5 linked regions of the Homo sapiens genome follow. The protein of the gene in region 1 purifies or fractionates together with the protein of each later gene. This does not show direct contact. Each region holds a gene or a part of one and is shown in the gene's direction. Other genes may lie near its edges. The genes, in order: EXO5, ECD, ENAH, ACTR3 and TOP3A.

Region 1 (5,309 bases):
GATGTAAAACACGTGGCTCAGTGTCTGGCACACAAAAAATAACCGCACAATAAATATTCTCTATTATAGCAGTAAATTTTGAGTTTTTAATAATGCTGTAATAGGCAGATTTTTTTCCCATTATAAGCTAGTTTCTTGTGGAGGGAGAAAATAAACTTAATGGGAAACTCCAGTTTAGTGACAGACACCAATTTCTATAATATTAAGAGGATAATTTATGAAGTCAAGCTACTAATTTCCATGTGTCGCTGTAACATCCTCTTATTATTTCATGCATTAATTTGTGTTAGACTATATTTATTTGTATCTATATATAGTTGATCTTTGAATTTTGCCATACTAGGTTCCTTGAACTGCATTTAAAAACAGTTATTGCAGAGCTCCTTTTTCTCAAGGAACAGTTTGTAGTTGAGATTCATTTTGCTCGTCAAGGACTTTGTATAAAGGAAATTGTAGAAAGTGGCCCATGGTAAACTTCTCAAACATTGTTCCTACATTTACAAAGATGTATATTCACTTAAAATAATGAAATACTCTTTCAAGTCAATAGAATTTTGAAGCAGAAAAGGCAAACCTCAAATCTCCTTTTTTTTTTTTTTTCTTTTTCTTGAGACAGAGTCTTGCTCTGTCACCCAGGCTGGAGTGCAGTGGTGCAGTCTCGGCTCACTGCAACTTCCATCTCCCTGTTCAAGCAATTCTGCTGCCTCAGCCTCCTGAGTAGCTGGGAATACAGGTGTGTGCCACCATACCTGGCTAATTTTTGTATTTTTAGTAGAGATGGGGTTTCACCATGTTAGCCAGGCTGGTCTTGAACTCCTGACCTCAAGTGATCTGCCCACCTCAGCCTCCCAAAGTGCTGCGATTACAGGTGTGAGCCACCCGCCCCGCCTCAAAGCTCTTTTTAAATCTGAAGAAACTGAGGCCAAGAAAGGTGATTTGCTTAAAGTCACACACAGTATGTTAGTGGAAGATCCAGGAATAAAACTATTTTTCCACTTAAAAAATTCTGCAGTGGCTCATGCCTGTAATCCCAGCACTTTGGGAGGCTAAAGTGGGTGGATCATGAGGTCAGGAGATCGAGACCATCCTGGCTAACACAGTGAAAGCCCGTCTCTACTAAAAATACAAAAAATTAGCCAGGCGTGGTGGCGGGCGCCTGTAGTCCCAGCTACTCGGGAGGCTGAGGCAGGAGAATGGCATGAACCCGGGAGGCAGAGCTTGCAGTGAGCCGAGATCGCGCAACTGCACTCCAGCCTGGGTGAAAGAGCGAGACTCCGTCTCAAAAAAAAAAAAAAATTCTGCCAAGAGATATATATGGATATATATAAGGAGCCCTATAGCAATACATACCTGGACTATAACTCAAGGCATTACTAATTGGTCATAAATAAACTGGCTTTTTAAAAGAATGTAAATAAATAATTTGTCATAATTTTGTTTTTATCTCACTGAAATTTGAAAGTGCTTTTGAGAACGTTTTTATTTGAACAATGCATTTCTTTAACATGTTATGCAGGGCCCTTCTAGCCCAATCCAGAGCTGTACCATGGCAGAGACAAGAGAAGAGGAGACAGTGTCAGCAGAAGCCTCAGGGTTCTCAGACTTGAGTGACTCAGAGTTCCTGGAGTTTCTGGACCTAGAAGATGCCCAAGAGTCAAAGGCTTTAGTTAACATGCCTGGCCCATCTTCTGAATCCCTTGGGAAGGATGACAAACCCATAAGCTTACAAAACTGGAAAAGAGGATTGGATATATTATCACCCATGGAGAGATTCCACCTTAAATATTTATATGTCACTGACCTGGCTACTCAGAACTGGTGTGAACTGCAAACAGCATATGGGAAGGAGCTTCCTGGTTTCTTGGCACCTGAGAAGGCAGCTGTGTTGGACACTGGTGCCAGCATACACCTAGCTAGAGAACTAGAACTTCATGATCTTGTGACTGTCCCAGTCACCACTAAAGAAGATGCTTGGGCAATTAAGTTTCTGAACATACTTTTGCTGATTCCTACCCTGCAGTCAGAAGGGCACATCAGAGAGTTTCCAGTGTTTGGGGAAGGGGAGGGTGTACTTCTTGTTGGAGTGATTGATGAGCTGCACTATACAGCCAAGGGGGAACTGGAGCTGGCGGAACTCAAGACACGCAGGCGCCCTATGCTCCCTCTGGAAGCTCAGAAGAAGAAAGACTGTTTTCAAGTCAGCCTATACAAATATATCTTTGATGCCATGGTACAAGGAAAAGTGACCCCTGCTAGCCTAATCCACCACACAAAGTTGTGTCTAGAAAAGCCACTGGGGCCATCAGTGCTGAGGCATGCCCAGCAGGGAGGCTTCTCTGTGAAGTCTTTGGGTGACCTCATGGAACTTGTCTTCTTGTCTCTAACACTGTCAGACCTCCCAGTTATTGATATCTTGAAGATTGAGTATATCCACCAAGAGACTGCCACTGTGCTGGGTACTGAGATTGTAGCCTTCAAAGAGAAGGAGGTGAGAGCCAAGGTGCAGCATTATATGGCCTACTGGATGGGCCACCGAGAGCCCCAGGGAGTTGACGTGGAGGAGGCTTGGAAGTGCCGGACGTGTACCTATGCAGACATTTGTGAGTGGAGAAAGGGCAGTGGAGTGCTCAGCTCTACACTGGCGCCCCAAGTCAAAAAAGCCAAATGAATAGAAGGTATGCTTTCAAGAATGTTGATCCTTCCTGCTCCTGTTGTACCTAAGCAAAAGAGGACCAGTCTCTGAGCTTGGCTTTTATGGAGAGTGTTCTTATTTTGGTTCTTTTTTTTATTTCCACAACCTCTAACCACATTCAGTCCAGGACCAAGGCTCAGGGATGAGTGGGAGAGATGGGTTATACTGTCCCTGGAGCTTCATCATGATTGCCTGAGAAGACAGATGCTCATCATGGCTGGAATGAAGGTATCCTTCAGTAAACTTTGCTTTCCTAAGAAAATTCTTCAGTTTCTGATAAGTCATCCCTATTTTTATCTTGATCAAGGCTTTCTACAGTTACATAATAAAATGAAATGCTGTCCAGGACAGTTGAACTGATGGTTTTTTCATAACTGCAGTCCTTCAAAGATGACCACCATATATAGTTGTGTACGTGTTATTCCAAGCCTTTAAATATATACATAAACATATTTTGGAATCAGAATGAGCAGACCAAAACATAAACAATAAATATTCTCAAAGAGACAAGGGAAGATGAAGTAGAAACAGGAAGTCATAAATATTAGATACGAAAAACATAATACATGGCTGGGTGCGGTGGCACATGCCTGTAATCCCAGCACTTTGGGAAGCTGAGATGGGTGGATCACCTGAGCTCAGGAGTTCAAGAGCAACCTGACCAATACGGTGAAAGCCCGTCTCTACTAAAAATACAAAAATTAGCCTGGGGTGGTGGCGTGCGCCTGTAGTCCCAGCTACTTGGGAGGCTGAGAGAGGAGAATAGCTTGAACCTGAGAGGCAGAGGTTACAGTGAGCTGAGATCATGCCACTGCACTCCAGCCTGGGCAACAGAGTGAGACTCTGTCTTAAAAAAAAAAAAAAAAGAAAAATAATACATGAAGTAACATGTAACATTCACATATTGCAATCCAGCAGTAGCACTCCTGGGTATATGCTGGAAGAAACCTACATGTGCAATAGAAAATGTGAACATGAATATACTTTGTAGCACTTTCACAATAGCAGAAGCCTAGAAGCTACCCAGGTGCCCATCAGCAGAAGAGTGGAAAATGTACAGTAGCCAAAACAAATGAGCTACAGTGACATAAAACAATATGCATGAATATTAGCAGCACAACATTTGGTGAAAAAAGTCCTGAAAATTACATACAGCATGATACCCTTTTTATAAGGTGAAAAATAACATTTAAAGGAAAATGTAAAGGTAGTGGAGAGGAATCCCAAGCCATCTTAGAAGGCAGTGGAGCTCTTAACTACAAACATCATCAAAGCAGCTAGAGGAAGGATGATACGGACGTCACCTGGAAGATAAGGACTTGCTTGTGACACTACTGGAGAATTTGCAGAAGTCAATGCATGGGGAGGGCAATTGGCAGGGGTAGAGTTTCTGTATTAACTGGAACATTAAGAGCCAACAGAACATGGTGAATGTTGTTAGTATGATTCCATGTTATACATGAGCTGGTAAATCCTGGACATCTGTAGGAGATAAGGTAGGTTGTCTCTGGAGGCCCTTCTTCACATACTCTTCTTATGGACCCTGGAATCTTATGATGACTCTTCACTGAGTGACTCTTATGGCCAGGCACTGTGCTAAGCACATTATAATTAAATCTGTATCCATTATCTCCAGTGAGGGAACTGAGGCCTAGAAGGGTTATATAATTTTCTCAGCTGGGTGTGGTAGCTCACACCTGTAATCTTAGTACTTTGGGAGGGGAAGGTAGGAAGATCACTTGAGGACAGGAGTTCAAGACCAGCCTGGGCAACATAGCAAGACCCCATCTCAAAAAAAAAAAAAAGCCAGGCATGGTGGTGCATCCCTGTAGTCCTAGCTACTTGGCAGGCTGAGGCAGGAGGATCACTTGAACCCAAGAATTCAAGGTTACAGTGAGCTATGATCATGCAACTGCAAAAAAAAAAAAAAGTTTCCAGGGTTCCACTGTTTGAAAGTGGTAGACTCCAGGCTAGATATGTCTGACGGCAGTGCTTATGCTCTCAATCATTATGCTATTAAAGTTTTCTTGTTGAACATCCTGGACTGTATGTTATTATAGGCCCTAGTAAGTTTAGAGTTAAATGAACCTAAATTCACTGGACCTATGGGATAAATGGTATTAAGCTAATAGTCTTCAAGAAAAGAACTTGCTCAAGTTCTATAGCATCATCTTAGTTATACTAGAAGTTTTAAGAACAGGAAAAAGGGCTGGGCGTGGTGGCTCACCTGTAATCGCAGCACTTTGGGAGGCTGAGGTGGGCGAATCACCTGAGGTCAGGAGTTGAAGACCAGCCTGGCCAACATGGTGAAACCCTATCTCTACTAAAAACACAAAAATTAGCTGGGTATGGTGGTACACACTTGTAATCCAAGCTACTCGGGAGGCTGAGGCAGGAGAATCGCTTGAACCCAGAAGGCAGAGGTTGCAGTGAGCCGAGATCACACCACTGCACTCCAGCCTGGGCGACAGAGTAAAACTCTGTCTAAAAAAAAAAAAAAAAATTTGCCGGGCGCGGTGGCTCACGCCTGTAATCCCAGCACTTTGGGAGGCCGAGGCGGGCGGATCACCAGGTCAGGAGATTGAGACCATCCTGGCTAACACGGTGAAACCCCAAC
Region 2 (6,423 bases), on another chromosome or scaffold:
CAGTGCCCACTGTGAAAATTGAAATGTACCGTTTGCAGGTATTTTTCTGCCATGGGGAATTGTGTATTATCCCTGCACCAAGAAAATCTGGAGCAGAATCTTGGTTACCCACCACACCCCCAACAATTCCACAAGCATTGAATATAATCACAGCACATTCAGAAAAAATACTTGCTTCAGAATCTATACGAGCTGCTGTGAATAGGCGCATCAGAGGGTAAGAAAAATATCACTTTCATTGCTAATTAAGGAACCTTTTGGTTTCGTGTAGTTCAGTCTTTCTTTGATTTTTGTTTGTTTTCCTTAAAGCTCTGTTGGAGTTGATCAGTCTTTCTTTGACTATAAAATACCTTTCACCTAGATTAATGCTAATTTTCATTTTGTCTTCATTCCTCTTTATGAAATAGACTAGTAAATTAAACTTACAGATTTTAAAATCAGGAAACAGATACATCTTTAAATTCCCATTCAGAAGTGTTACAATCTTGTCCCAATATTTTTGCATTTATTTACCTTAGATATTGTGGCTAAGTATTAGCTATATCCATGGGTAAAAAATTTGAGACCTTTAAAAATAGAAACTTCATGGGCCTGGAGCGATGGCTCACACCTGTAATCCCAGCACTTTGGGAGGCTGAGCAGGGGGCGGATCATGAGGTCAGGAGTTCAAGACCAGCCTGGCCAACATAGTGAAATCCCATCTCTACTAAAAATACAAAAACAAAATAGCAGGGCGTGGTGGCAGGTGCCTGTAATCTCAGCTACTTTGGAGGCTGAGGCAAGGAGAATCGCTTGAACCCGGGAGGCGGAGGTTGCAGTGAGCTGAGATCACGCCACTGCACTCCAGCCTGGGCGACAGTAGGAAACTCCATCTCAAAAAAAAAAAAAAAAAAAAAAGTAGAAACCTAATGGAGCACAAACAAGGTGCTCAGGTTTTTTCTGTTGTTCTGGGTCTGTATATGGGATTCTTTGACCTATGTCAGAATTCAGTTTCTGAATAAAACTTTAGCTTTTATTCAGAAAAGAAAGGTCTTAGCCTAATTACATATTCGTTCATCCATTCAAATTTGGGTGCCTATTAAATATTAAGCACCATTCAGGTATTAACAATATTAAAAATATTTTTGGCCGGGCGCGGTGGCTCACGCCTGTAATCCCAGCACTTTGGGAGGCCAGGGCGGGTGGATCACAAGGTCAAGAGATCGAGACCATCCTGACCAACATGGTGAAACCCCGTCTCTACTGAAAATACAAAAAATTAGCCGGGCGTGGTGGCAGGCCCCTGTAGTCCCAGCTGCTTGGGAGACTGAGCGCAGGAAAATCACTTGAACCTGGGAGGTGGAGGTTGCAGGGAGGTGGAGGTTACAGTGAGCCGAGGTTGCACCACTGCACTCCAGCCTGGCGACAGAGCGAGACTCCGTCTCAAAAATAATAATAAATAAAAAATAAAAATCTCTTTTAGCTTCAGCATACTTTGTACCATTCTTTTAGAAGAATAAACTCTGATTTTATCTTTATTCCAAAGTATAATAGGTATTTTTGTTTTGTTTTGTTTTTGAGATGGAGTTTTGCTCTTGTCGCCCAGGCTGGAGTGCAGTGGCGTGATCTCGGCTCACTGCAACCTCTGCCTCCCGGGTTCAAGCGATTCTCCTATGTCAGCCTCCCGAGTAGCTGGGACTACAGGCGTATGCCACCACGCCCAGCTAATTTTTTGTATTTTTAGTAGAGATGGGGTTTTACCGTGTTAGCCAGGATGGCCTCAATCTCCTGACCTCGTGATCCACCCGCCTCAGCCTCCCAAAGTTGTTTTGTTTTTATAGAGCTACAATAATCCCTTTTCTTTATTTTCCATTTCTTCCTACTTTTTTCTTTCCCTCTCTCGTATATTCTTAAGTGTATATACAGTATCTTTTTTCATCTCTCTTGTCACTCTCTACGTACTGCTCTTGATGAACAAAGAGATGTCAAAAAGAATGTGAATGGTATAAGAATTATAGGTATTTATATACTGTAAAATGAAAGTAATTATGTTACCTGTCCCAGGTACCCAGAAAAAATTCAGGCCTCACTTCATCGAGCACACTGCTTCCTTCCAGCTGGCATTGTGGCAGTGCTAAAGCAGCGCCCCAGATTGGTGGCTGCAGCAGTCCAGGCATTTTACCTACGAGACCCTATTGACCTGCGAGCTTGTCGTGTTTTCAAGACATTCTTGCCTGAAACACGAATAATGACATCGGTGAGATTTCTATCTTGGTCATTTAGTTTCTCTTACTGGAAACCGAGTTGAAACATTATTATTTTTTTCTTTTTACATTTCTCAGTGCTCAGTGAATGAAACATTATTTTAATTGTTCTCTAGAAAAAAAAGGAAATATTCTGTTTCTTCATAGCATGTTAATATAGATTGAATATTCCTTATCTGAAATGCTTGGGACTAGAAGTATTTCAGATTTCAGATTTATTTGGATTTTGGAATATTTGCATTAAACTTACTACTTGAGCATCCCAAATCTGAAAATTCTGAAATCTCAAAACTTTGAGCATATCGTTGGGACTCAAAAAGTTTTGGATTTTGGAACATTTTAGATTTCAGATATTTACATTTGGGATGCTCAAACTATACACGTTTTTTCTTTTCTTGCACCCAGTGAAGGAAATTTTCAAGAGACCTGCCTCCCCATTTTATACTCAATGTTTTATAGCTATTTTTGACCATATGTTTCTATTTCTATAATTATTTCCTTTTTTTTTTTTTTTTTTTTTTTTGAGACAGAGTCTCACTCTCTCACCCAGGCTGGAGTGTAGTGGAGCCATCTCAGCTCACTGCAACCTCTGCTTCCTGGGCTCAAGCGATTCTCCTGCCTCCCGAGTAGCTGGGATTACAGTCACCTCCCAACACGCCCAGCTGATTTTTTTATTTTTAGATGGTGTTTCGCCATGTTGGCCAGACTGGTCTCGAACTCCTGACCTCAAGTGATTCACCCACCTCAGCCTCCCAAAGTGCTGGGATTACAGGTGTGAGCCACCGCACCCAGCCTAATTATTTCCTTCTTAACAATAAAACATTTCATCTCTTCCAGAGAATTAAGAATTATTCTTGGCCGGGCATGGTGGCTCACACCTGTAATCCCAGCACTTTGGGTGGCCAAGGCAGGTGGATCACTTGAACCCACGTGTTTGAGACCAGACTGGGCAACATGGTGAACCCCATCGCTACAAAAAATAAAAAAATTAGCTAGGTGTGGTGGTGGGCGCCTGTAATCCCCGCTACTTCGGAGGCTGAGGTAGGAGGATTGCTTGACCCCAGGAGGTTTGGGAGGCCAAGGTGGGCAGATCACCTGAGGTCAGGAGTTTGAGACCAGCCTGGCCAGCATGGTGAAACCCTATCCCTGAGGCTTCAGTGAGCCATGATTGCTCACTGCACTCCAGTCTCTGCAACAGAGCAAGACCCTGTCTCAGAAATAGAAAAAATGAATTATCTTTATCTTCCAGCCATTTAATTGCTGTATAATGTAACTAATGATAAGAATTTTACTAGCGATTACTAAAAAGTAGGCAGTAGGGTAAAATTTTTTTTGCAACAGTGTCTTGCTCTGTTGCCCAGGCCGGAGTGCAGTGGAGCAATCTCAGCTCACTGCAACTTCCTCCACCTCCCGGGTTCAAGCAATTCTCCTGCTTCAGCCTCCCGAGTAGCTGGGATTAGAGGCGTGCGCCACCATGCCTGGCTTATTTTTGTATTTTTAGTAGAGATGGGGTTTCACCATGTTGGCCAGGCTGGTCTCAAACTCCTGACCTCAGATGATCTGCCCACCTTGGCCTCCCAAAGTGTTGGGATTACAGGCATGAACCACCATGCCTGGCCAGCAGTAGGGTAAATTTTATGGTATGTGAGTTGTATCTCAATAAAGCTGTTACTAAAAACAAGTAGGCAATGAATAGGTTGAATCTTCTTTGCATTTCATATGAATATGAAGCTTATAAATGGACTTCTCATTATATTTAACTGTGAAGTGTTATTCACAATCTTAATTTCAGGAAAAGACTCATGTATTTTGTGTCTTGATGCCCAGGTCACATTCACTAAATGTCTATATGCACAATTGGTGCAACAAAGGTTTGTGCCAGACCGGCGGAGTGGATACAGGCTGCCTCCTCCATCTGATCCCCAGTACCGAGCCCATGAATTGGGCATGAAATTGGTAATGTTGAACCAGAAAATGTTGTTTCCTTTCTTTATGTAAATGGACTCTTAATAGAATAGTGGCACAATATACAAAGTCCAGAAATACACCCTGTTTATGTAAGAATGCAGTAAAATGTGGCATTTCAAATTAGAATGAAAAAAATGGATTACTTAGTAAGTGATGATGGGACAAGTCTGAAGTCATCTGAAAAATTGAAGTTGATTCCCTAATACCTATACCAAAATAAATTCCAATTGGATCAAATATTTGAACATAAAAATTGAAACTATACAATTTGAAAAAAAACCAAGAACCTTTTATAATTTGAATAGGAAAGGCCTTTCTATGCATGACTTGAAACCAGAAGCTATAAAGGGAAGACTGATGAATTTGATTATGCAAAAATTAAGCATTTCTGCACGGGAAAGAAAAACTCCATAAATAAAGTCAAAAGCAAATCTGGAAAAAGTGTTATATTTGCAATCTAAATGAAAAAGAGCTGACTTCTCTAATACATAAAGTGTTCCTTTAAGTCAATATGAAAATGATAATACTAGCCAATTAATTTTAAAATGTTCAGAACTATGAACATAGTCCACAGAAAAGGAAATACAGGTGACCTTTAATTTAAACATATGAAAAATATTGAATCTTAACTCATAATAAAAGAAATGCACTTTAAAGCTACAAAATAGTGTTTTTCTTTTTTTTTTGTTTGCTTTCAAAAATGTTACAATCTAGACATTGATAGGAATGTCTAGATTTTCTTTTTTTTTTTATTATTATGCTTTAAGTTTTAGGGTACATGTGCACAACGTGCAGGTTTGTTACATACGTATACACGCGCCATGTTGGTGTGCTGCACCCATTAACTCGTCATTTATATTAGATATATCTCCTAATGCTGTCCCTCCCCCCTCCCCCCACCCCACAACAGGCCCCGGTGTGTGATGTTCGCCTTCCTGTGTCCGTGTGTTCTCATTGTTCAATTCCCCACCTATGAGTGAGAACATGCGGTGTTTGGTTTTTTGTCCTTGCAATAGTTTGCTGAGAGTGATGGTTTCCAGCTTCATCCATGTCCCTACAAAGGACATGAACTCATCATTTTTTATGGCTGCATAGTATTCCATGGTGTATATGTGCCACATTTTCTTAATCCAGTCTATCATTGTTGGACATTTGGGTTGGTTCCAAGTCTTTGCTATTGTGAATAGTGCCACAGTGAACATACGTGTGCATGTGTCTTTATAGCAGCATGATTTATAATCCTTTGGGCATATACCCAGTAATGGGATGGCTGGGTCAAATGGTATTTCTAGTTCTAGATCCCTGAGGAATCGCCACACTGACTTCCACAATGGTTGAACTAGTTTACAGTCCCACCAACAGTGTAAAAGTGTTCCTATTTCTCCACATCCTCTCCAGCACCTGTTGTTCTCTGACTTTTTAATGATCGCCATTCTAACTGGTGTGAGATTACCATCTCATTGTGGTTTTGATTTGCATTTCTCTGATGGCGAGTGATGATGAGCATTTTTTCATGTGTCTTTTGGCTGCATAAATGTCTTCTTTTGAGAAGTGTCTGTTCATGTCCTTTGCCCACTTGTTGATGGGGTTGTTTGTTTTTTTCTTGTAAATTTGTTTAAGTTCTTTGTAGATTCTGGATATTAGCCCTTTGTTAGATAAGTAGATTGCAAAAATTTTCTCCCATTCTGTAGGTTGCCTGTTCACCCTGATGGTAGTTTCTTTTGCTGTGCAGAAGCTCTTGAGTTTAATTAGATCCCATTTGTCAATTTTGGCTTTTGTTGCCATTGCTTTTGGTGTTTTAGACATGAAGTCCTTGCCCATGCCTATGTCCTGAATGGTACTGCCTAGGTTTTCTTCTAGGGTTTTTATGGTTTTAGGTCTAACATTTAAGTCTTCAATCCATCTTGAATTAATTTTTGTATAAGGTATAAGGAAGGGATCCAGTTTCAGCTTTCTACATATGGCTAGCCAGTTTTCCCAGCACCATTTATTAAATAGGGAATCGTTTCCCCATTTCTTGTTTTTGTCAGGTTTGTCAAAGACCAGATAGTTGTAGATATGTGGCATTATTTCTGAGGGCTCTGTTCTGTTCCATTAGTCTATATCTCTGTTTTGGTACCAGTACCTTGCTGTTTTGGTTACTGTAGCCTTGCAGTATAGTTTGAAGTCAGGTAGCATGATGCCTCCAGCTTTGTTCTTTTGGCTTAGGATT
Region 3 (5,718 bases), about 180 Mb from region 1:
CTCAGTCTGTCCTTTTTTGTGTGTGGAGTTGTGGGCAGGTCATTGGACTGGGACTGACTTTACCAGTTTTCAGGCTGTGGGGCTAGTCAGTCATTCTCTCTGAGCCTTCTACCTCTAAAGTTGAGTTCTTTTTTTAAATTCTTTTTGTTTTGTTTTTATTTTTTCCTTGCCACTATACAAGCAAGGATAGATAAAGCTTTTTATTATTATTGTTATTATTATTATTTCGAGACAGTCTCGCTCTGTCATCCAGGCTGGAGTGCAGTGGTGTGATTTCAGCTCACTGCAACCTCTGCCTCCCGGGTTCAAGCGATTCTCCTACCTCAGCCTCCTTAGTAGCTGGGACTACAGGCATGCGCCACCACACCCGGCTAATTTTTGTATTTTTAGTAGAGACAGGGTTTCACCGTATTGGCCAGGCTGGTCTCGAACTCCTGACCTCAGGTGATCCACCCACCTTGGCCTCCCAAAGTGTTGGGATTACAGGCATAAGCGACCGTGCCCATCCCCGATAAAGTTGAGTTCTGAATTTCCTCTTTCACTGTATTCTCGGCAGCTACTGGTTGGTTTATTCTTTTTTTTTAATCTTTTTTGGTTTATTCTTCTTTTGATCTTTGAAGAGAAGGAGAAAAAAGATCTGAGTTTGGCTCTCCCATCTTAAGTGCAGCTTTTAGTTGTTTTATAGTCATAGACGCTATTGCACTGGACAGCATGCATCCTGGATGTAAACAATGCGGAAAAATCAATGGAGTGACCATCTTGGGGTCAGTGGTGTTGCATAAAGCACCAGTGGTGTGCTGTTCTGTGTCAGTTTCCTCTGCGCCACGTGCTTTCACAGTTTGAATTACCAGCATCTCTGTGGTGGCTTCAGTACATTCTCCATTGTGCTTCAACCTGGAAGCACATTCTGCCGTTCAGAAAGACTGATTCCAATCATGTAATGGGACCACACGAGATCCATGCTCCAATTATATGAATAGCAGAAGGTCCATTTGACTCTTGTAGTTCAAGAGCTGTTTCTAAGTAAACAGACTTTCCAGAGCTCGATGAAGTGAAGAAGCCCTTCTTTCAATTCCTGGGCAGAATTCAGTGGTTTTCATATCATCTGAACCTGCTGTGCTGCTGTTTATTCTATCACTGTCAGCCTTGAAAGGAAAAAAGGAATAATCTTACCCTCCTGCCCTTCTTATTTTATATCTTCCATCTTATCCATCTATATCCATGTAGTCATTCCTTCCGAGTTCCCTGGTTTTAATCCAAAAGACTCTGTTTAACAGCAATGTCTTGGCAGACCAGGTGCCGCTTCCGTGCCATTTGAGGGCTCTGAGTCTTTGCTTCGTCTTAGGAAGATAAAGATAATTTGGCAGAAAGTCAGAGATGGAAATAGCAGTTTGGGATGATAAAAGATGGGTCCTGTTTTGCTGACATTCTTTTACTTTGGTTCTTGGTGCGTGTCCTTTGGGATTCATTTCTTGCTAGCATGAATAGGACATGCTTTTCGTTAGGTGCTTTTCTTTTTTGGAGAACATGAAGTGTTTCTAACAAAACTGAATGAGCTAGAAAGAATTCTATTTTGAGACATCTGTAGTTGATGCAAAGTATTTCTGTAATCCTCAATGACAGTACTTACATATTTGCATAGAATTTTTTTTTTAATTTTTGAGGAAACCTCTCTGGAGTCTGTATTTATAGGAGCATCCTGAAAGTCCCTATTATGTAGCTGGTGGGAGCGAGAGAGGGACAGCCACACTCGTGCTGTGAGCAGAGCACAACTTCAGGCAGAGTGAATGCCTTCTGAGTTCTCATTGGAAGCTTTCTGTTGCTCAGCCTCTGGCAGATTTCAGAACCTTCTACTTAAGCCAGGTGTGGTGGTGCGTGCTCCTAGGCACAGCGACTCGGGGGGCTGAGGCAGAAGGATCACTTGAGCCCAAAGTTGGAGGCCAGCCTGGGCAACATAGCGAGGCCTGTCTCCTTAAAAAATAAATAAATAAATAATAAATAAATAAATAAATAAAAACCTTGTCCTTGACTATTGTGCTGTCTGCTGCCCCTTTGTAGGGATGGGGTTGGGGTCAGAATAAGCATGTGCATGAATGGCGGAAAGCTTTGGTGGTGTTTGTTTGTTTGTTTGTTTTTTGAGAGGTGGGGGAGTCAGCAGTGAACCTTTCTGGTTAAAGAACAACGTACATAATTTCTATTATGAGATTTAGAAGGTTAAATACTTTTTTTTTTCAGGCCTACCAAGTTGATAGACCAAAAGTATATAGTAGAACAGCACAGTAGAAAAAATTTAAAAGTGAATTTCTTATGGTCCAAAAGGATGGATAGTCACAGTCCATAACCTTTCATAATATATGCTGGAATTGGAATCTCTTGTCATCTTGCTTTGCTCTGAATTTTAGAACTAGAAGTGTGCATGTATGTCAAAAGATTATGCAGAGCTATTTTCTTTGCTAACAATGTAAACATTTGCACCCCATGAATGGGACTTTATAATCTGGAAGTGAGCCTAAGGTTGCGTATACTGAAGTCATGTTTTAAAAGTTAAGGTTGACTTAAACATATACAAGGCTGTATTTTAATTGTAACTAGAAATCATTTACTATGCATACAGAACCTCATGTATCTTATCATGGAATTTGTGAATTAATGGGCCTTGCCGAATTCAAGGGTAAGGGAAACTGGTAACAACTTGTTTTAAATCAACATACTATAAGCTCCTGCTTGCTTGACTCAAGTTGTTTGAAAATCTGAATTAAACAGGATCTCATTGTCAGGAAACATCTTCTAAGCTTGACATCTACGTTTAAGAAGGGAACGTGGAAGAGAAGGTGAGACATGAAACTAAAACAGCTGGGAGGGTAGGATCAGACTGCACCTGATTTTTGGACCAAAGTTTCATATAGGAATAAATAAAAAGGAGGACCACTTGTGAGCCAACCTAGGAAGGACTTGCCAGAAAGTAGCAGCTCCTGCTGCAAAATACAGTGCCTTCAAAATGATTCTCTGTGTGAATTGCATGCAATTTCATGTAACCATAAAGTGTAACCTGTATGTGCATGACATGTGTCTAGAATGTGTAAAGTTAGGATTCAGCAGGAAGGGGCCTGGCCCTGTCACTGTGGTGGATCAGTGGACCTGCTGAAGTCACTGGACTCATGTGACTTAGGTTTGCAGCATCAGACCCCTGTGTTTGCATTAAGTGGCCACATCGTTGAAATCGGATCAATCTCTCCCTCAGCTTTCTTTCCTACTTTGCAGCTTTGCTGGTTTTAACTGCTTCATTCTTCTGCTTCTTGGTATCCTTTTTTCTTTTGAAATAAAAACATGAAATACTTAATTCAAATGAGATTTGTATTTATTTTACCAGTTGCTCTTAATTTACCAAAGGTATACGACATGAAAAGAGTTGCATTCTTTTGTCTTGGTTGTGATTCTGACCTTAAAATACGCTCAGTTCTAAAAGCTTGAGGAGCGTTCTATACTGGTCCTTCTGCATTTCAGCCTGTCACCAAGGGGAGTGTTTTGCGATCCGCCATCCTTTCCCTGAATGCTGCTGCTCCTCTATGACGGAAAGCTTGGTGACCTCTTCATTGGAGGCGTCCAAAGCCAGTGAACAGCCTGTTGGTAAATGAACGAGCTGCATGTACGTGCTATTTTCCTCCAGGACCAAATGCCCTGTGCATTTTAGTATTAAGCGTACTTACTGCAGGAACCAGTACTGGGACCACTGCAAAACTACACAATGGTGCAAGTGCTTTGGGGCTTTGAAGAGCTGAAGACAGACATAAGACTTAGTGTTCTCAGGCCGGGCATGGTGGCTCATGTCTGTAATCCCAGCATTTTGGGAGGGGTGGGCGGATTGCTTGAGTCCAGGAGTTCAAGACCAGCCTGGGTGACATGACGAAATCCCGTCTCTACAAAAAAAAAAAAAAAAAAAAAAAAGGACTTGGTGTTCTCACTTTGTGACCATCCTGCCCCTCACTGGAGGTCCCTAGAGGCAGGTGCCTTTCAGCTAAGAATATCTGGGAGTCTGTGGTTTGTGAGGAGCTTGCTGGCACATTAGTGTAAAGGGTGTGATCCTTTTAATGGCCACACTTTTCTGTATGATGTCTTTGTTTTCATTCTCTGATGTCAGGGAGGTGAAAAGAAGGCTCAGGTGAAAAGAAGGTTCATCAACTGAACCAGAGTAACTTGTCACCTCCTTTTTTGCCAGCCTCATTTCTAAATAGACTGAATGTCTGTTACCTCTCCTCTCCTTTTCAACTGAGAAGCCCTTGGTGTACAGCGGAAAGGGGCTGTAGGGGAATGCATTTTGCCACTGCAGTCATGAGCTGACCCAGCCTTCTGTATTCTTGGATGTTTTCATTCTAGGCTGAATCCCATTGTGTTATGGCAAAGAGGCCAGACCCTAAGAGACTATATGCTGAAAAGATTTGTGAAGCCCCTCAGTTCCCAGTAACTTTTGGAGCTTATTGTCATGAGATTGCTACCCTAGCCCTGGGCAGTGTGGGCAAGGACACCGTGGCACCTGGGCACTGAGTCCGGGAGTTGTATTTTAGCCTTCTCTCCTCTCAGCTGTAAAGTGAGGTGTTTAGGTCTTCAAAGGTCATTCCAGCTCCAGCTTCTATGGTTTCAATATGCTGGGGGTATCTGGCTGAGGCTCCCCACCCAGGTGGCCCAGCTGACAGTGACAGTATCATAGAGTGCGAGATAGCCTCTGTCACCACACTGACAGCTGCAGACACTAGTATGGAGGGGTTATGTGGGTGAAGTTCAAGGCGTCTCTCTGTGAACAAGCTAGAAAGAACCACTCATTTGTCATTTCTCCTTGGCCACAGGCTCTCATGGCAAAGGCCTCTGACTGAGGAGTAACACAGCGTTGAACCAATTTTAATATTGCAAGGCCACTCCTGTGGGTAAAGGCATTGGAGATGTATGCTTCAAAGCATTTTTAAAAGTCACCTGGGATATGACAGTGATGTCTATCCTTGGATGATTATAGCTCTTAAGTCATCACTCCCGACCCCCAAGACAAAAACGAGTCTGAGAAGCCAGGAAGCTGGTTTGCAAAAAATGTGTCGCGTTGAGTTGGGCCTTTCCTGCCACAGCTCCTGCCGCTGGGTGAAGTGTTGGAACCCTACAGACAGGTCCTGTCGCAGCCAGCTGGGAAGCCGAGGTGAGCAGGCCTCCTGGGACAGATGGGGCCCCACTGATGAGGCCACTGAAGCCCCACAAAAGGGCTGGCTGCTGTCAGGAGCCTCCACAGCTGGGATTGCCCACCACGTTTTGGCTTTTTTAAAAAAACTTTTTTTAATTTTAGAGATGGGGTCTGGCCATGTTGCCCGGGCTGGTCTCACTCCTGGGCTCAATCCTCCCACCTCAGCCTCCCAAAATGCAGGGATTACAGGTATGAGCCACCATGCTCAGCCTTAAAAAAACTTTATTGAAGTAAAACATATGGACAGAAAAGTGTACGTATGCATACAGCTCACTATCTTGACAAACTACACCCATTTGCACAGCACCCAAAGCGAGAAAAGACGTCAAGACCCAGAAGCCCCCTCGTGTTTCCTTCCAGCCACTCCCTCCCAGCATCACCCCTCTCCTGACTTCTGACCCCCGAGGTTGCTGTGTTTGTGCTTGATGTGAAGGAATCCTGCTATTTTGTGCTTGGTTCCTTTCTCCCAATATTGCATGTGAGATCATCCGTAGTGT
Region 4 (6,423 bases), on another chromosome or scaffold:
CTATGAATATTCATTTACATAGGCTTCCTAGATGATTCTTCAGCAGCCCATTCAAGGGCTAACTTTGCAGAAATTCTGAAACCTGGTATTGGCGGTGGAGTTGGAGCAGAAGAGATAAGTTAGGAAAAGATTGGTTTTTTCCTTTCTTTTTACGTTTCTTCTGGCAGTTATATTTCGTGTTATTTTATTTACGGGTAGCAAAGGCTTTGTAGTTATCTGTTGTTGAGTTCAAGCTCTATCACTTAATAGCTATATGACTTTATACACTTCAACCTCTGCAGGTCTTATTTCTTCCCATCTGTAATTTGGAGATGATAGTGTATACCTTATAGGTTTTTTTTGTTTGTTTTTGAGACTGGGTCTCTGTTGCCCAAACTGGAGTTCAATGGCAAGATCATGGCTCACTGCATCCTCAAACTCCTATGTTCAAGCTGTCTTCCTGCCTCAGTCCCCCGAGTAGCTGGGACTACAGGCACATGCCACCATGTGTGGCTACTTTTAAAAATTTTTTGTAGAGATGGGGTCTCACTGTGTTGCCTCAGGCTGGTCTCAAACTTCTAGCACAAGTAATCCTCTTGCCCTGACCTCTTAAAGTGTTGAGATTACAGGAGTGAGCCACCATGCCCAGTTTTGTTTTGTTTTGTTCTGTTTTTTGATAATGTGTGAAAATGGTTCAGCACAGTGCCTGGCACACAGTAAGGGCACAATATATTTTAAATATAATAATTGGTTGGCTTTCTTTTTTTTTTGAGTTTCAGTTCTTAAAGAAAGGAATACAGTGTGTTATGCTTATTTTCTTATCTCCTGCAGGCCTTGGCCTGCCTACCACACACAGTTCTCTGCACAGTCAAAATGTTTTTGCTGATTTGAGAGATTGAAGGAGGTATAGCTAGGACTTGGCAGTTGATTCCAGTGGATTGTAAATAGGCATCAATGAATAGTTCAAGATTGTAAGCCTGAGTGATTGGGACAATAAGGGAGTTAGTTTTAAGAAACTGAGTAAAATTGGAATTTGTTGTTGAATTTGGAATGATGATTTATAATTGGAAACATTCTAGAGGAAATTAAAAATACAGGACCTTTGGGAATGAAGGTGGATATTTGGGAATCATAATTTGTTAACTGAAGCTAATAAGATGAGAGCATTCAGAGAGAAAAGAACGGAAAGATTGAATATCAGTTTCCCTTCTTTAAAAAAATTGTGGATATGTGATCTAGCTTCTTGAGCATCACAGTGACTGATTGGCTCGTGGTAATTGATCGCTATGCTGACAATCTTATCTCCACCTATGTCATTCAATTTTCTAAGAGGCAAAATCCTTAATCAGGAGGAGAGTTTAGCTCTAGCTAAATTTCCCTTGTCCAGCATGCTCCTGCTCCCCCAACTTGTGGAAACAGCTAAAGGATTGGACTAGGAGCAGAAGTTTGGAATGGTTAAAATGTAGCAACATGTGTTTCCTGAAACAAAATTCCACTATAATAAAAAAAGCATTTGAATGCTCCCTTGTAATTCTGTTGGAGCTTGTTGCCTTTTTTATGACACAACCATAATCAGTGATAGACAGTAGCATAAAGAAGCAAGAGCAAAGCAATTAAGTAATAATAGCACTACAAAAATGTGTGCTGTAGCTTACCAAACACGACATTTATGAATTATTAGATAGGAGATAAGGTGATGTTATTGGATTGTTTTAAATTTAGTTCTTTGAAATAGGATAGTGACTAATATTAGTTTGTGTGCTGATTTTATAACTTTATATGGGCCTTTATATCAGGAAACAACGTAACCTACATAATTGACTAATACCAGAGCAAAAAAAAGAAAAAAAATTCTAGTTTTTTTAAAGGACGATTTTGCAGAATTTTAATAATAATTTTGTTTCAGAATTTTCAAAATTCTTTCCAAACTGTCGATTTAAACTCAAGCCATTCTTACATACTCCTTGGAACCAGGAAAGGAATAGCTTGAATTTGTGTGGCCAGATGTTATTTTTTTTTTTTTTTTTTTTTTTTTTGAGGCAGAGTGTTGCTCTGTCACCCAGGCTAGAGTGCAGTGGCGTGATCTTGGCTTGCTGAAACCTCCGTCTCCAGGGTTCAAGCTATTCTTCTGCCTCAGCCTCCCGAGTAGCTGGAATTATAGGCACCCGCCACGATGCCTGGCTAATTTTTGTGTTTTTAGTAGAGACCGGGTTTCACCATATTGGCCAGGCTGATATTGAACTCCTGAACTCAAGTGATCCACCCGTCTCGGCCAGATGTATTCTTTCAGCTTTCCTTCTGCTCCCCAACCCTAATACATACCTGAGAAGAATATTCATCTGTTCGGATACTCAACATGCCATGTTTTCCTCCTGCCGAAGGACATTACCTAAACGTTTTATTTTTAAACATTTTGTCCTTGCTTTAAGACTTTGTGTCATTTGTGAAAATGCAATGCTCTTGGGAAGGGTTTCTGTGCTTTTCAGTATTTAGTGTAAAGGAGAGGTTACAATGAGGAGGATAAAAGTCCTAGAGAGAGAATTAGGGTGCAGAAGACCTTGTAGTTTAGGGTTGGCTTAATCTACTGTAAACATGTAAACCATGTTTTTAGTATTAGTGTATGACAGGACACAAGTGTTTGCCTAGTTATAGAGATTATTTTAGTTAAATCTAGTGTGCTTCTGCTATAAGCATTTTTAAAATTCAGTTACTCAAGGGTACAAATATAGCATTTAATGTGTATTTGTGAAACTTGCTTTAGTAAATTAAGGGAAATGCCTAATGACTCACACAGAATTATAGAGCTGAAAAGGGATTTTGAGAGATAATTTAATCCAGTCTTCATTTACAAATGAAACAGAGGCTCAGAGTTGAGAAATGTCTTTTGGGAGTGTTCCTAATTATTAATTGATAGTATTGTTGAGTTCTCTTAAATTTTCTTGTGAGTTCACATTTATGAGTTAATAGTTGAAATTAAGTAATTGGAATAACATAATGTATTTTATTTATAGTTAAAGTAGTTTTAGTTGAAGCCTACATCAGAATTCTTCAGTGTTTCGTTGTAATGCAGAGGCATACTGTATGGCACACATGAGAAACTAATTTTATGTTTCCCAATAATAATGTTTTAAACCAAGTTTAGAGATATTTTAAAAGTTGTGCTCTGTAGGTGCCAGGACAGATGACTTTCATAAAATGAATGCTCTCTTTAAAAAAATTTTTCTTTATGGTTTCAGAGATTTATATCTTTGGATTTTAATTATTAAAGATGTATTAAATGGGATGTGTACCAATCAGCCATTTCAAGGCCCTTTGCACGTTTTGTTTTGGATGTTATTACCTTTTCAGAAGCCCTGTGAGGTAGTTACTGTTATAAATAATCCCATTTCAAAGATAAGTAGTAGATTTAGAATTTTAGTCCTGGGGTAGTCTCATTCCAGAGCTCACTGCTCTACTGTTCCCTAATTGAGATACATCCAAGGAGAGTGGTCAAATTATTAGTCCAGTTTTTAAGAGTGTCCATTTTATACATACTTAAACCCAAAGCTACTAATTTTTAGTACAAATATGAAACATATAGGGAGGTCTTAGTGACCAGTTCACTGATTTGATTAACCTATAACACATTAAAGTGAAATATGGATTTGCTTACTGCTTATTTGAGTATTGCAAGGACTGATAATTGCTGATAAATTCAGGGCAGCTCAAGGAAATGATGCTAATTACATATATCTTCAAAAGGAAGGCATACATATTTCTGAAGCTGCAATTTGAAAATGAATAATCTCCACTGATGCATTACTTACTGTAATTATTTTACTCACTATGTATTATGTGCTCATTAATGACTGCACAAAACACATATGAAAGTAAAAAAATAGAAGAACTTAAAGTAATCAAGTATTTATTTCAGTCTCAGTTCTGTGCTGAACACTATGGTATATACAAGAAAACTAAGGCATGATTTTATACTTGAGGTTTACAGTTTAGTTTCAAAGATGAAACTAATATGTGTGAAATAATTATGGATGGCTTACTAGCATTTAATTGTTTGGGCAGATTAATAAGGGCTGTAGTATTTGGAGGATGATTTATGAAGAAGCTGAACTTGATCAGATCCTTGGAAAAGCATAAATAGGATGTGATAGATATATGGGAAGAAGGACTTCAAATCTAGGATGTGAGCTAAATTGAAAGCTCCATAGTGGCAGGGATTATTTCTTTTTTGTGCATTCTCTATTCAAGTGATAGCGTCCTGCATGATATTTAATAATGCCCAGCAAATATTTTACTGATAAAGGGAAGTCATGAAGGAGTTTCAAAGTATTTGGGGGATGGGTCAGTTAGGAAATTGCCCTGCCTGGAATTCAGATATTTCTGTTGGGAGCTGTGGGACAGCAAGTAGTTTATTTACTCATCTTGCCTTATTTCAGAAGGATTTTAAATGGGGCAGAATGGTTTGCGATTTATTTGATAGACAGTAGTGGATTGTGTAGATCATTAAGCAAAAGAGTGATAAAAGGTAAATTTATGCACTATTAGTCTGGGTCTAGTATTTTACTTTATACAGCTTTATTGAGTTATAATTCACATACTGTAAAGTTTACTCTTTTAAAGTGTGTAATTGAGTAGTTTTTAGTATAGTCACAAGGTTGTGCAACTATTTCCAGTCAATTTCATTTTTTTTTAATGCCTGGATGCCACTTATTGGAATCCAATCAATTTTAGAACATTTTCATGACCCCAAAAAACCCTACACCCAGTAGCAGTCACTCTCCGTTACCTCTACCCTCAACCCTTAGCAAACACTAATTTACTTTCTGTCTTTATGGATTTGCCTATTTTGGCCATTTCATGTAAATGGAATCATACAATTTGTGGCTTTTTGTGACTGATTTCTTTCATGGGGCAAGTGCTGACTGCTGTAGTCGTTGTCTTCAGTGGTGATGGACGTATAGCAAAGGGACTGGGAAAACGTTGAGAATCTTTGAAAGCAAAATTAAAGGAATGGGTAGAGGGATAAAGGAAGGCCTATGGATAAAGGAAAATCATCTTGGGAAGGAAATGTTTACCAAATACTTAGTGAGTTTTATTCACTGTTAGGTCCTTTAATCCTTATGACAACCTCATGAATTTAGTTTTATTCCCGATGCATTAGGGATAGTCTATGATCACAGGATCACAGGCTAGTAAATGGTGGAACAAGCATTCAGTCATGTCTTCTTTATTTCAAGGTTCATGTTCTCCCCACTAGTGAAAAGGAGTTAAGATTTTAAGGTTTAGGCTTGAAGGGACCAGGAGAATGTTTCTGTTGACACACAGAGTAGGCGTCCAGGTTCTTCACTCAACAGTCCATCAGTATTTTTGTGTCAGGTTAAACATTGACTTGCATGTCATGAGAAAAATGTTGGAGGGAATTGGAAAAGTTTTTTAAACCATTGCTGTTTATCTTTATAGCTAATATTGTCTTACTCTACTTGACAAATTTCCCTGTGAATCAGCCACTGCATTCTTGTTTTAAAAGTTTCTGGCTGGGCACGGTGGCTCATGCCTGTAATCCCAGCACTTTGGGAGGCCGAGGCCGCAGATCACCTGAGGTCGGGAGTTTGAGACCAGCCTGACCAACACGGAGAAACCCCATCTCTACTAAAAACACAAAATTAGCTGGGCGTGGTGGCGTGTGCCTGTAATCCCAGCTACTTGGGAGGCTGAGGCAGGAGAATTGCTTGAATCCAGCTACTCGGGAGGCTGAGTCAGGAGAATCGCTTGAACCTGGGAGGCAGAGGTTGTGGTGGGCCAAGATCGCGCTGTCGCACTTCAGCCTGGGCAATAAGAGCGAAACTCTGTTTCAGCAACAACAAAGTTTCTAACACCAAATTACCTTTTTGGGCTTTGGTATTGTATGACGAAAACTGGGTAAGCTGAGAATTAAGATATTATGGGAGTAGGCATTGGGATCAATTAGTAAACTCTGTTTTCATTTGGGATTTATTTGGTAATCATATCTTACATAAAATTATATAAGATGTACTTTATTTTTATGATATGGTAAGAGTATAAGCAAGTCATTCATATTAAGATAGAATTATTTGAACTTTAGTGGTTGTCAGTGTTAAGGTTTTGGAAAGAGTTGTGCTAGATCATTAAAGTCTCTTCTATCCTTAAGCTCTGGGGTCTTATATTTATTTTGTTATATCATTTCATTTGTTGAACTATTGAAAGTTAAAACTTGTTCCGTATGTAGAGGCACAGGCAGAGTAGATTTAGCATCATTCTTAAGGGCCCTATAATTTTCAGAATTGTAATGGAACATTGGCTTCAAAGTCACCACTATATTAGCCCCTAGCAAGAGAGTGTAATTGTACATGTTTTAATGTACAAGCATTTGCAATTTGTAAAATTAAAAATAATATCCAAGGCAAAGGATGTTAATGCTTTTACAAT
Region 5 (6,423 bases), on another chromosome or scaffold:
CTCTCATTTTAATGATTTGGCAGAATAATAACTGCAAAAAGACTAACTGAATTTTGAATTTTGTCATCATTCAGAATGTTACCATGGTAATGACTTCAGTTTCTGGACATTTACTGGCTCATGATTTCCAGATGCAGTTTCGAAAATGGTCAGTACAATTCTCAAGGGAAGGACTTTCAGATTATAGTAAGTTGTGAAATTTCACAGGAATTTTGAGGCATGTTGATCTTACTGGGTAATTTTTTTTTTTTTTTTTTTTTTTTTTTTTTTTTTTTGTTGGAGACAAAGTTTCAGAGTGAGACTCTGTCTCCCAGGCTGGAGTGCAGTGGTGTGATCTCGGCTCACAGCAACCTCTGCCTCCTGGGTTCGAGTGATTCTCCTGCCTCACCCTCCCGAGTAGCTGGGACTATAGGCACGTGCCACCACACCTGGCTAGTTTTTGTATTTTTAGTAGAGACAGGGTTTCACCATGTTGACCAGGCTGGTCTCGAACTCCTGACCTCAGGTGGTCTGCCCACCTCAGCCTCCTGAAGTGCTGGGATTACAGACCGTGAGCCACCATGCCCGGTTTTTTTTTTTTTTTTTTTTTGAGTCAGGGTCTCGCTGCGTTACCCAGGCTGGAGTGCAGTGGCGCAATCTCGTCTCACTGCAACCTCCGCCTCCTGGGTTCAAGCGATTCTCATGCCTCAGTTTCCCAAGTAACTGGCCTTACAGCCATGTGCCACTACACCCAGCTAATTTTTTCTATTTTAGTAGAGATGGAGTTTCACCCTGTTGCCCAGGCTGGTCTTAAACAAAGCAGGGTTTGCCTTCTTTTGCCTCCCAAAGTGCTAGGATTACAGGCGTGAGCCACTGTGCCTTGGTAATTTATTTATTTATTTATTTATTTTATTTATTTTTTGAGACGGAGTTTTATTCTGTCGCCTAGGCTGGAGTGCAGTGGCACAATCTTGACTCATTGTAACCTCCACCTCCCGGGTTCAAGCGATTCTCCTGCCTCAGACTCCCGAGTAGCTGGGACTACAGGTGCCTGCCACCACGCTTGGCTAATTTTTCGTATTTTTAGTAGAGACGGGGTTTCACCGTGTTAGCCAGGCTAGTCTCGATCTCCTGACCTCGTGATCCACCCACCTTGGCCTCCCAACGTGCTGGGATTACAGGCGTGAGCTACCACGCCCAGCAGTAATTTATAATACTAAGATGACCTAGGATTATCTGATCCATTGTGAATTTTTATTAAATCTTTAAACAGTCACTTTTGGTGTTCCTCAAAATTGCCAGACCTTTTTCATGCAGCCATTGGATTGCATTTACCTGTGAAAGGGCTCCAGAATGCCATCTTATCAGTCCTGTTCACACTCTTGGAGAAGTGGACAGTGTGTCATGCAGAGGGTCATAGCCTTACTTTCAATTCACCGGGACCTTTTCTTTTGGGGATACACCATGAACCCATTGGAACAGTTTGCTGTCATTAGATTGGAGGGCTCTCTGTCATGTACTGAGTTGGGACTCTGTTTTCATTTCTTTTCTAGGCAGAGCTGCAACCCTCTTGTCCTCTTTGAAGCAGAAATTGAAAAGTACTGCCCAGAGAATTTTGTAGACATCAAGGTAGGGTCTTTTGGAAGACATATGGCACTGAGTCAAACCACAGAGTCAAACAGAGTGATTTCTTTGTTTTTAATGCATTGGCATTTGGAGATAAGGTTTTCCACCAAAGTCACTACCATGATTTAAAAAGCTGGTTCCCACCCATTGTATAAATGTGGCTAAGTGGCCAAGGGACTGAAGTAAACTTTTTTTATGAATGGTAGTTGTTTAAATCCTAGGAATAAAGGCTGGACATGGTGGTTTATGCCTGTAATCCCAGCAATTTGTGGGGCCAAGGCAGGATCACATGAACTCCAGGAATTTGAGACCAGCCTGGGCAACATAGTGAGACCCTATCTCTCAAAAAAAAAAAAAAATTTAACCAGGCATGGTGATGTATGCCTATAGTCCCAGCTACTAGTAAGGCTGAGGAAGGAGGATTACTTGATCCCAGGAGGCAGGAGGTTGAGGCTGCAGTGAGCCGTAATCACACCACCACACTCCAGCCTGGTGAGAAAGTGAGACCCTATCAAAAAATAATCCTAAGTATTGTAAATTATTAGCGCGTAGCCCCCATCTCACCCCTTGTTAGATGAAAGAGGCTACAAAGTATAAATGCCTGTTTGACAGTAAATTGCCAGTTGTCAAGCAGTCAGGGCATGTATAGTTAATTTATTTTTAATTTTTATTTATTTATTTATTTATTTTTTGAGACGAAGTCTCGCTCTTGTCCCCCAGGCTGGAGTATGATGGTGCAATCTCAGCTCACTGCAACCTCTGCCTCCAGGTTCAAGCGATTCTCTTGCCTTAGCCTCTCAAGTAGCTGAGATTACAGGCGCCTGCCACCACACCCGGCTAATTTGTGCATTTTTAACAGAGATGGGGTTTCACCATGTTGGCCAGGCTGGTCTCGAACTCCTGACCTCACGTGATCCACCCGCCTCAGCCTCCTAAAGTTTTGGGATTACAGGTGTGAGCCACCGAGCCTGGCCAGTTAATTTATTGAGAACTGATAAAACTTTGGATGAAATTCAATTGGGATTCATTTTGTTTTGTTTTGTTTTGTTTTGTTTTGAGATGGAGTCTTGCTCTGTCACCCAGGCTGGACTGCAGTGGTGCGATCTCGACTCACTGCAAGCTGCGCCTCCCGGGTTCATGCCATTCTCCTGCCTCAGCTTCCCGAGTAGCTGGGACTACAGGTGCCTGCCACCATGCCCGGCTAATTTTTTGTATTTTTAGTAGAGACAGGGTTTCACCGTGTTAACCAGGATGGTCTCGATCTCCTGACCTCGTGATCCACCCACCTCGGCCTCCCAAAGTGCTGGGATTACAGGCGTGAGCCACCACGCCCAGCCGGCTTCGTTTTTTTTAACTAGGTCATAATCAGAACCTCTCGAAGTGTGCGTGCGCGCGCGCGCGCGCGCGTGTGTGTGTGTTAGAGCTGAATTTCAGGTTTTGTCATATTGGGGAAGTTATATTAAACCCTCTATTCTAGAAACTCGTTTATGGTTCTAAGGGGTTGTATCATGATTAGCACCAATGAGAGCAGTTTTCTCTGTTCTCTTTCCCTTGCCAAGTTGTCACACTCCAAGAGCAGCATTAACCTTCAGTCAGATCCCCTTAGCTTAGAGATGTCAAGTCACTGTTGTGCAATTCTGTTCTCACCACTCTTATTCCACTGCGAACTTAAGAAAACTTTGGAACGAGAGACTCGCCAGTGCCAGGCTCTGGTGATCTGGACTGACTGTGATAGAGAAGGCGAAAACATCGGGTTTGAGATTATCCACGTGTGTAAGGCTGGTAAGTGCTGCTGCTGCTGCTGACTTTCTCTACTTTGGAACTCCATAAATAGAGTGTTCTTGTTTATATGTGCACATGGGCCACGGATGAGGTCCTCTGCAGGTACTCTCCCTCCCAGTCTGTGAGTCCCACCAGCCATGTGTCCTGGAGCAAATCACTGAGCCATTGGGAGCCTCAACTTCCTTGTCTCTAACATCAGGCCAATCTGACATGTTTCCTGGGACTGCCACAGAGATTAGATGAGTTAATGAGTGGTGTAAACCATTTAGCCCAGGACTCATTTCTTGTTAGGTACAAGCATACAAGCAGATACCCGGCTCCTTGAGAACAGGGACTTTATATTCTTTTTGTTGTTGTTGTTGTTGTTATATATTGAATTCTTTTAGTATTTGGTTAATGGAAGCAAAAATAGAAAAATAAAATTACATATTGAATATGTATAAAAGAATGAATATACCACAAGTAAAGTACAAAAAATAATTATAAAATGTTCTGTTTTCTTTTTTAATCTCTCATATTATACAATGCTCGACTATTAATAAATAATTGTTGCAGTGGATTTAAAGGCTCTAACAGTGTTAATGGTTTTGGGTAACTTAGAGGGAGTGATGAACAGGCCATTCTCTGGCTCAGAGGGTGGGGTTGCTACTTTCCTTTAGTGGTTTTGTGTTCAAAGCTGTAATGACTCCTGGAAATTTAAGTGCATTAACTTTCAAGGACAGTGTGTATATGTCCTATATTCTTTGCTGAAGGGACATGAAATTCCCCTACAGAACCCTTTAATTGACAATATTTTTCTTTTCTCAAAAGGCCTGAGAGAGCAAGTAAGATTAAAGTTGCAAAAGGCAGCCAGGCACGGTGGCTCATGCCTGTAATCCCAGCACTTTGGGAGGCTGAGGCAGGTGGATCTCCTGAGGTCAGGTGTTCAAGACCAGCCTGGTCAACATGGTGAAACCCTGTCTCTACTAAAAATACAAAAATTAGCCAGGTGTGGTGGCGGGCGCCTGTAGTCCCAGCTACTCAGGAGACCAAGGCAGGAGAATTGCTTGAACCCAGGAAGCAGAGGTTGCAGTGAGCCGAGATTGCACCACTGCACTCCAGCCTGGGTGACAGAGTGAGACTGTCTCCAAAAAAAAAATGTTCACCAAGAGCATTTTAGTATTTTAGTTATTGGAGGGGGCCTGCCCCTCCACACCTGTGGGTATTTCTCACAAGGTGGAGACGAGAGACTGAGAAAAGAAAGAAGACACACACAAAGTAAAGGGGAAGAAAAGTGGGCCCAGGGGACCGGCGCTCAGCAAGTGAAGACCTACACCAGTGCTGGTCTCAGTTCCTCAGTATTTATCAATCACTATCTTTACTATCTCAGGGAGGGGAATGCAGTGTGACTATAGGGTGTTGGTGGGGAGAGGGTCAGCAGGAAAACAAACAAAAGACTGTGTCATAAATAAGTTTAAGGGAAGGTGCTGTGCCTGGATGTGCACGTAGGCTAGATTTATGTTTACCTTTACATAAACATCTCAGTGCAGTAAAGAGTAACAGAGCAGTATTGCCGCCGTGATGTCTCGCCTCCAGCCATAAGGTGGTTTTCTCCTATCTCAGAATAGAATATATGGTCGGTTGTACACCGAGTCATTCCATTCCCAGAGACGTGCAGGAGACAGATGCCTTCTTATCTCAACCGCATAGAGGCCTTACTCTTTCACTAATCCTCCTCAGCACTGACCCTTTACGAGTGTCGGGCTGGGGGGCTGTAAGTCTTTCCCTTCCCACGAGGCCATATCTCAGGCTGTCTCAGTCGGGGGAAACCTTGACAATACCCAGGCTTTCTTGGGCAGGGGTCCCTGCGGCCTTCCACAGTGCATTGTGTCTCTGGTTAATAGAGAGTGGAGAATGGCGATGACTTTCACAAAGCGTACTGCCTGCAAACACATTTTTAACAAAGCACATCCTGCACAGGCCTAAATCCTTTAAACCTTGAGTCAATACAGCACATGTTTTTGTGAGCACAGGGTTGGGACAAGTCACAGATTATTAACAGCATCTCAAAGCAGAACAATTTTTCTTAGTACAGATCAAAATGGAGTTTCTTTATGTCTTCCTTTTTCTACTAGACACAGTAACGATCTGATCTCTCTTTTCCCCACAGTTACTAGCTAAAATTAACTCCATCACTATTTCTGACAGTACACTCAGTTTAAAGGTTATGGTGATGTTTCCTCTTTAGACACTGTACACCATTGATTTAACCTAATAGGTAAATTGGTCATCTCACAGCTTCTTGAACTGGTTTGCCTTTATTTCAAGGGGCTTTAAGAAAAGTGAGTCCTTTATGATGGAGGGCAGTGTGATTTGACTTTGACCTTGGTAACACCTTGTGTTCTGCAGTAAAGCCCAATCTGCAGGTGTTGCGAGCCCGATTCTCTGAGATCACACCCCATGCCGTCAGGACAGCTTGTGAAAACCTGACCGAGCCTGATCAGAGGGTGAGCGATGCTGTGGATGTGAGGCAGGAGCTGGACCTGAGGATTGGTGAGGAGCTAGGCAGACCTCTCCCATGGCCACATTAATGTTGTGTTATGGGACCAAAAATGGGCTCTGTGTCGATATGTGCAGCCAGCCCTGGACTCTCATTATCCATCATTTTCACCTTCCTTCACTCTCCTTCACTCTCCAGGAGCTGCCTTTACTAGGTTCCAGACCCTGCGGCTTCAGAGGATTTTTCCTGAGGTGCTGGCAGAGCAGCTCATCAGTTACGGCAGCTGCCAGTTCCCCACACTGGGCTTTGTGGTGGAGCGGTTCAAAGCCATTCAGGCTTTTGTACCAGAAATCTTCCACAGAATTAAAGGTAGGGCCTGGAGTGGGTGTTATGGCCTGGGACCTATGGGCTCAAGGTTAAGGAGGGGGACTGTGAGCATTAATAGCACTAATAAAGATGTGATTTATTTTAGTCTTGCTGTCATCCTCCCTGGCCCATTACAATCCACTTAAAGTTCCCTTTGTTATCCAGAAACTCCTCCCTATTTGATATTCGTT

Evidence for each region.
Region 2: the proteins of EXO5 (region 1) and ECD purify together in Homo sapiens (affinity purification with mass spectrometry, with the first as the bait; one study listed by BioGRID). This does not show direct contact.
Region 3: the proteins of EXO5 (region 1) and ENAH purify together in Homo sapiens (affinity purification with mass spectrometry, with the first as the bait; one study listed by BioGRID). This does not show direct contact.
Region 4: the proteins of EXO5 (region 1) and ACTR3 purify together in Homo sapiens (affinity purification with mass spectrometry, with the first as the bait; one study listed by BioGRID). This does not show direct contact.
Region 5: the proteins of EXO5 (region 1) and TOP3A purify together in Homo sapiens (affinity purification with mass spectrometry, with the first as the bait; one study listed by BioGRID). This does not show direct contact.

What each region holds. Positions count from the first base shown.
Region 1 is NC_000001.11:40,512,999-40,518,307, forward strand, and holds the end of EXO5 (exonuclease V), read left to right. Parts: intron 1-1,516; 5' UTR 1,517-1,546; coding exon 1,547-2,668; 3' UTR 2,669-3,040; downstream 3,041-5,309. UniProt on the Homo sapiens protein: Single-stranded DNA (ssDNA) bidirectional exonuclease involved in DNA repair. Probably involved in DNA repair following ultraviolet (UV) irradiation and interstrand cross-links (ICLs) damage.
Region 2 is NC_000010.11:73,150,069-73,156,491, reverse strand, and holds part of ECD (protein ecdysoneless homolog), read left to right. Parts: intron 1-38; coding exon 39-217; intron 218-2,043; coding exon 2,044-2,236; intron 2,237-4,070; coding exon 4,071-4,199; intron 4,200-4,786; exon of another isoform or gene 4,787-6,423. UniProt on the Homo sapiens protein: Regulator of p53/TP53 stability and function. Inhibits MDM2-mediated degradation of p53/TP53 possibly by cooperating in part with TXNIP. May be involved transcriptional regulation. In vitro has intrinsic transactivation activity enhanced by EP300.
Region 3 is NC_000001.11:225,484,457-225,490,174, reverse strand, and holds the end of ENAH (protein enabled homolog), read left to right. Parts: 3' UTR 1-3,346; downstream 3,347-5,718. UniProt on the Homo sapiens protein: Ena/VASP proteins are actin-associated proteins involved in a range of processes dependent on cytoskeleton remodeling and cell polarity such as axon guidance and lamellipodial and filopodial dynamics in migrating cells.
Region 4 is NC_000002.12:113,895,530-113,901,952, forward strand, and holds part of ACTR3 (actin-related protein 3), read left to right. Parts: intron 1-6,423. UniProt on the Homo sapiens protein: ATP-binding component of the Arp2/3 complex, a multiprotein complex that mediates actin polymerization upon stimulation by nucleation-promoting factor (NPF).
Region 5 is NC_000017.11:18,302,076-18,308,498, reverse strand, and holds part of TOP3A (DNA topoisomerase 3-alpha), read left to right. Parts: intron 1-74; coding exon 75-148; exon of another isoform or gene 149-186; intron 187-1,003; exon of another isoform or gene 1,004-1,026; intron 1,027-1,532; coding exon 1,533-1,608; intron 1,609-3,278; coding exon 3,279-3,387; intron 3,388-5,775; coding exon 5,776-5,919; intron 5,920-6,064; coding exon 6,065-6,235; intron 6,236-6,423. UniProt on the Homo sapiens protein: Releases the supercoiling and torsional tension of DNA introduced during the DNA replication and transcription by transiently cleaving and rejoining one strand of the DNA duplex.